Homo sapiens: one gene and its partner. The protein of the gene in region 1 interacts with the protein of each later gene in a pairwise test. Each region holds a gene or a part of one and is shown on either strand. Other genes may lie near its edges.

Region 1 (2,693 bases):
CATTTAAAAAACTTAATAGAAGGAAGTAGTCGTTTTACCTTGAGGATTGTGCCACCCTAATCTTGAATGAAGAAAATTTTTTCAGATGACAACCTACAAACAGGGGCTGTCCCCCAAGCATTCAATAGAAGCCAAATTCTTTCTCGCACTGAGAAGTTGAGACCCATTAGGACAACATTCCAAGTGACAAAGTTCGCCCTGTCACTGGAGTTCCAGTCTCGGATGACGCCCAATGCACTCATTTCCATTGACTTGTTTCTCCTTTTTAATAGTAAAACAGATTTCCAATCAGACTAAGACAATTATTTTTAGTGTGAACATGACCCTTATAATCAGATTCTAAAGCAAAGCTCAATCTAACATAGTTGGCATTTTAAAAAATCCACTATTTTATTCCTCCAACCCATTAAAAAATTCCTTATTTATTCCTCTATTTGCAATATATCAATATCCACTTATACATAATATAATCATGTATGTACACTACAATCAATGAAATATTTAATATACGGAAATCTTTTACATAAATTTTTCTCACAGTCTTTTTCCTGATGTCATTTTCTGAAAATCCATGGGGAAAGCTCTATGTATTTATATTAATCAATGTTTTCAAATTGAAATATAACTCTAATTAGTAAAAAAAAATCTAAATCTGAAACAATTATTTTCCTATTTCGGCATATCTATTTTAATGATTCGCTCTGCATTTATATACACCAAATGTTTTCCAAATCTCAGAAACATCTGTACCCTGTGCTTTCCCCATACTTGTGGCCCAGCCGCATTTTTCACATCACAGGCACTATGATTTTTAGTTTAAGTTTAGTTTATCAGGTCAAGTGAACTCACAGCTCTATGAAATCAAACACTATATATTTGTATTTAGGTAAGAACTTTAATACTATTTTATGTACCTCACCTATTATGTCTAATTCTCTAGTTCTTTGTTTCAATTTTAAGTCAATAATGGAGAGTATAAGAGCTCAGAGTATATTCTGAGGTAAAAGTAAATCAACCAAAATCTAACCTGTGTTCAGCAGAGGCATGGCAGATGTAAATCAGAATTAATTCTGTTTCTCTTTTATGTCTGACAGGGTAGCTTTGGGAGGGAAAATTTTTATAGTTCTTAAACATTTTCTCACTTATTCTGCACTGTCTTTTTCTGCCTTTTCTGTACATGATTTTCCCAAAATAAATGTACTAAATTTACCTCCACTGCACTTATTCTAGAGGAATTCTTCAATCCTAGCTCATTTTCATGAATCACTGTCATGGGATAAAAGTATTATGGTAGCCATGGTTTTGTGAAACCATCTTCTCCAGCAGAATTTTTTAAAACAGTATAAAACATATAATCTAAAACCATTTCAGACTGTTCTGTCTACATGGAATAAATGATGCTGAAATATCGTGTCCCAATTCATAGTTTGAAAGGCAATGATTCTCTTTAATGTCACTAACCATCCCCTTCTATGGGTGGGTGTGTTGGGTGTGTCTTTTAGGTATAGCAGTAAGAGGAGAGCAAGGTACTCCTGGTCCACCAGGCCCTGCTGGACCTCGAGGGCACCCAGGTCCTTCTGGACCACCAGGAAAACCAGGCTACGGAAGTCCTGGACTCCAAGGAGAGCCAGGGTTGCCAGGACCACCGGGACCATCAGCTGTAGGGAAACCAGGTGTGCCAGGACTCCCAGGAAAACCAGGAGAGAGAGGACCATATGGACCAAAAGGAGATGTTGGACCAGCTGGCCTACCAGGACCCCGGGGCCCACCAGGACCACCTGGAATCCCTGGACCGGCTGGAATTTCTGTGCCAGGAAAACCTGGACAACAGGGACCCACAGGAGCCCCAGGACCCAGGGGCTTTCCTGGAGAAAAGGGTGCACCAGGAGTCCCTGGTATGAATGGACAGAAAGGGGAAATGGGATATGGTGCTCCTGGTCGTCCAGGTGAGAGGGGTCTTCCAGGCCCTCAGGGTCCCACAGGACCATCTGGCCCTCCTGGAGTGGGAAAAAGAGGTGAAAATGGGGTTCCAGGACAGCCAGGCATCAAAGGTGATAGAGGTTTTCCGGGAGAAATGGGACCAATTGGCCCACCAGGTCCCCAAGGCCCTCCTGGGGAACGAGGGCCAGAAGGCATTGGAAAGCCAGGAGCTGCTGGAGCCCCAGGCCAGCCAGGGATTCCAGGAACAAAAGGTCTCCCTGGGGCTCCAGGAATAGCTGGGCCCCCAGGGCCTCCTGGCTTTGGGAAACCAGGCTTGCCAGGCCTGAAGGGAGAAAGAGGACCTGCTGGCCTTCCTGGGGGTCCAGGTGCCAAAGGGGAACAAGGGCCAGCAGGTCTTCCTGGGAAGCCAGGTCTGACTGGACCCCCTGGGAATATGGGACCCCAAGGACCAAAAGGCATCCCGGGTAGCCATGGTCTCCCAGGCCCTAAAGGTGAGACAGGGCCAGCTGGGCCTGCAGGATACCCTGGGGCTAAGGGTGAAAGGGGTTCCCCTGGGTCAGATGGAAAACCAGGGTACCCAGGAAAACCAGGTCTCGATGGTCCTAAGGGTAACCCAGGGTTACCAGGTCCAAAAGGTGATCCTGGAGTTGGAGGACCTCCTGGTCTCCCAGGCCCTGTGGGCCCAGCAGGAGCAAAGGGAATGCCCGGACACAATGGAGAGGCTGGCCCAAGAGGTGCCCCTGGAATACCAG
Region 2 (3,831 bases), on another chromosome or scaffold:
GCATTAGAGTGTCTGTATTTTGTTGTCTTCATTTATAGAGTGCTGAGATTAGTTTTGACAGGCAGGTAAGTTATATGTAAATTAGCGTGATCTTTTCGAGGCAGTTTTATAATTTTAAGCTTTTAGAGCAGATGGAGAGTAGGTTTTCTGTAGTAAGTTAGCCCAGTGCCCAATTTGTGACCATTTTGGGGTTCTTACTGATTTTCTCATACATTTAGTGAGGTTTCTCTACTCTGGCTGGTGGGAACCAGCCCCATGTGTTGTGATACTTATTCAGGTATTTAAGTGAAAGAGGACATATCAGAGTATAACTAGACAGAGAATATAAATAGAAAAGAGGTTTCCAGAGGACTGAGGTCCTGGGGCAACCTGATGTTTAGAGGTGAGGAACATGAGGCACAATCAGTAAAGGAGATGGAGAAAGAATTGCCAGAAAGGTCAAAGTAAAAAAGGAAAAGTGAGAAGTCCTGGAAGGGAAACACACTGTTTTGTGGGGAAGGAATGGAATGTGCAATCATGTCAAATGCTATTGATAAAAGAAGTAAAAGGAGAAAAGTAATCACTGACAATTGGAATTGGAAACCTGGAGGCCATAGGTGAACCAGCTGAGAATAGTTTCAGAGGAGTTGGTGGCAAAATCCTAAATAGAGCAGCCCAGGAGAATGGGAGAGGAAGAAGTAAAGACAGTGACTGCAGAAAACTCTTGCCAGAAGCTTTGCTTTAAAAAGAAGAAGAATGGACAACAGGCTTCCTGAATGCCAAGGTATTTAGCAAGCTCTTTGCATTAAGAACTAGAATGCTCTGCAAGCCTGTGTGAGCACCAAGAGTTGTTCAGCTTATTGTTCAGAAACTTCTTTGTGAACTTTTATCCTCTGTGTGCAGCCTAGTTTCCAGATAAACATTGAGGAGTCCTCCTAGGCAGATTTCTGAGGCTTTCTTTCTGCCTGGCTCCCTCTCTGGTCCTCTGCCCCGAAATTTCTGGCTATCTTCACCTTCCTCCTCCAATTGTTGTCTCCTCCAGTTGGTGAGTCAGCCCTGCTTGGGACCCTTCTCCTTGTGCTGCGGTCCAGGAAGGACTCTGGGCTGAGATCATAGGGTTCATCTACTTTGTTTCCCACCTCTTAGGAATTACAGTCTTGCACTGTCAGTTGTAAAGTCTGAAAACAGCTATTTCTTTTATTTTTATCCAGTTTTCTAGTTTACAGTGAAAGGCAAGTCAGTACAGGTCCATCAGGGCTGGGGACCACAGGGGCAGTTTCACACGGAGTTCCGAGTCTGGCATGCCCGGCCTTTGTGATATGTAAAAGTCTGCATCTGAAACGGCCCTTCTTGGTTGTCGTGTTCACAGTCCCAATTGTAGGGCTGTGTCATGGATACGATTAATGAGATCCTGCCATTTTCAGAGTTGCTTCCTGAGGTCCAGGAGGGACTTCTTGTGTTTACATTTCTTATTACCCTGACTTTATTAATAGTGCACTTGTTTTGCTGCCTTCATACCCACTGCCTCATGTAAGGGCTTTTGATTTCGCCTTTTAAAGGCCAGGGTGAGAGTGGCAGCTTACATGTGTACGGGCCATTTGTCTCTTTTTAAATTCCAGACAGTACACATTCCGTGCTTTTCCTTTGTGCACCACTCTGGCTACTAGACTAATCAGGACCTTGTCTACCAATTATCCACAAAATGAAATTTCGGAAAGTCTGCCTCTTTTAGAGACAACTTTCTTAAAGTGTTCCATGATACATCAATACCATCTAGCTACAAAAGTAAATACGCACAAAATATTTTATCTCAGTGGACATTTTAACTTGTTAAATAAAGCACTTTCTAGTTAGTGGTTTGCTCTGATTGGCATTTCTAAAAACAACTTTATGAGTTATAACTTACAGACCATAAATTCACCCATGTTAAGTGTACAAATTAAATGATTTTTACTAAGTGTACAGAGATATGCAACCATCACCATAATGTAAATTTAAAACATTTTTATTCCCCCAGTTAGATCCCTCATGCCCAAAGGCCCGCTCCCACCCCAGGCTCAGGCAACCAACACATCACTGTGTCTCCATGGATTTGGCTCCCTTTCTGGGCATTTGACACAAATGGAATCACATAACATGTGGCCTTACATGTCTGGCTTCTTTATATTTTTGAGATTTATCCATGCTGTAGCATATTCATTCTCTTTTGTTGCTAAAATAGTATATATTTTTTTACCGTATAGCTGTATCCTATTTGTTTACAGTTGATGAGCACTTGTGTCATTTCCACATTTTGGCTATTAATAATACTGCTATGAATGTTCTCATGCAAGTCTTTGTATAGATGGGCATTTATTTTTAAAGCACTTTTCTAAGAAAGGAAATAATTTATACTTTGGAAATTTCATATCAAGAATTAATTGTATACAGTTAGTTGGTCTGGATAATTGAAATCTTCTCACTCTATTCTTTAACTTATAAACAGAGTCCCTGCTCCACAACTCTCCCTAAACTAACTTCTTGCAGAGTTCAATTTTAATGGTACAACTGGCTTGGTTGTCTTACTAGATTCTAAGTTTCTAATCAGTTGGCCCCACAATTCTTCTTTTCCTAAATCCCCAAGGCTAGTGCTTTTTGACTGTTTCCTGCACCTAGATGCAGAATGTTTAAAACTGAGCCCATCATGTTCCTCCCTGAACCTATTCCTAATCCATTATTTCTAATCTCACCATTGAGCCACCCTTTCTAACCACTTCCTCCAGCCAAAAACCTGGAAGCCACCCCAAATTCTTCTATATCCAGTTGGTCACAAGGCTCACCCATATTTGATTATGTCATCTCTTATTCAATAGCATTTAAGGACTTATTTGAAATAAAGTTAAATTCTTTATCTTATCCTAGGAAAACTCGGTGATCTGCTTCTCATTTCCCTCTCTCCAGCTTCATCTTTCAACACTTCACCTGGCCCTCCCTCCTACTGCCCCTTGCCCCACATCCCACGCTCCAGCAGCTAAAGCTTTTTCATTTGATCAGTATTTATTGAGACCTGTGATGTGCCAGGCATCATACCAAGCCCTGGACTTACAGGAGCACGTGCTTCCTAGCTCCATAGAACATACTCTTTAGTGGGGAAGACAAAGCAGTTATTTTAATAAAGGTGAGATGTATTCTGTTGGGGGAAATGGTATGGGTTGTCACAGAAACTTGCAGCACAAGGAGTGAAACTCCTCTGGGGAAAGGGAAGCTGAGGCTTGGAGGATGGGTGGGATCCCGTCAGGTGAAAGGGAGGCAAGAAGAGCTCTCTGTCCTCCTGGGTTTCTGGTAATATCACCTACAATGCTTTTTTCCCCAAGGCTATCTACAAAATGGTAGGCACTGTGATCATGATGAAAATGAATGAGGATGGCCTGACGCCTGAGCAGCGAGTAGACAAGATTTTCAGCAAGATGGATAAGAACAAAGATGACCAGATTACACTGGATGAATTCAAAGAAGCTGCAAAGAGCGACCCTTCCATTGTATTACTTCTGCAGTGCGACATCCAGAAATGAGCTGATGTCAATGCTATGGACTGCACAAAAGTCTCAATGTTCCATTCAGTCTGCAGCTATTCACACACACACACACACACACACACACACACACACACACACACACAAATATTGCTTGGACTACCTATAAATGGACTTGCTTCTTGTGTTTGAAACACTCGTGTGCATGAGAATGTCATTTGCTAATGAATTTTAAAAGCATATATAAAACAAAACAAACAACCTGCCACAATGTGATATGTGTAATATCATTTCATAAAAATCCCTCTTCCTCCAAAGCCTGGGCAGAAATGTGCTGCAA

What was found.
Region 2: the proteins of COL10A1 (region 1) and VSNL1 interact in a two-hybrid assay, tested with the Homo sapiens proteins (one large-scale study listed by BioGRID and IntAct).

The regions. Positions count from the first base shown.
Region 1 is NC_000006.12:116,120,771-116,123,463, reverse strand, and holds part of COL10A1 (collagen alpha-1(X) chain precursor), read left to right. Parts: intron 1-1,502; coding exon 1,503-2,693.
Region 2 is NC_000002.12:17,651,865-17,655,695, forward strand, and holds part of VSNL1 (visinin-like protein 1), read left to right. Parts: intron 1-3,332; coding exon 3,333-3,530; 3' UTR 3,531-3,831.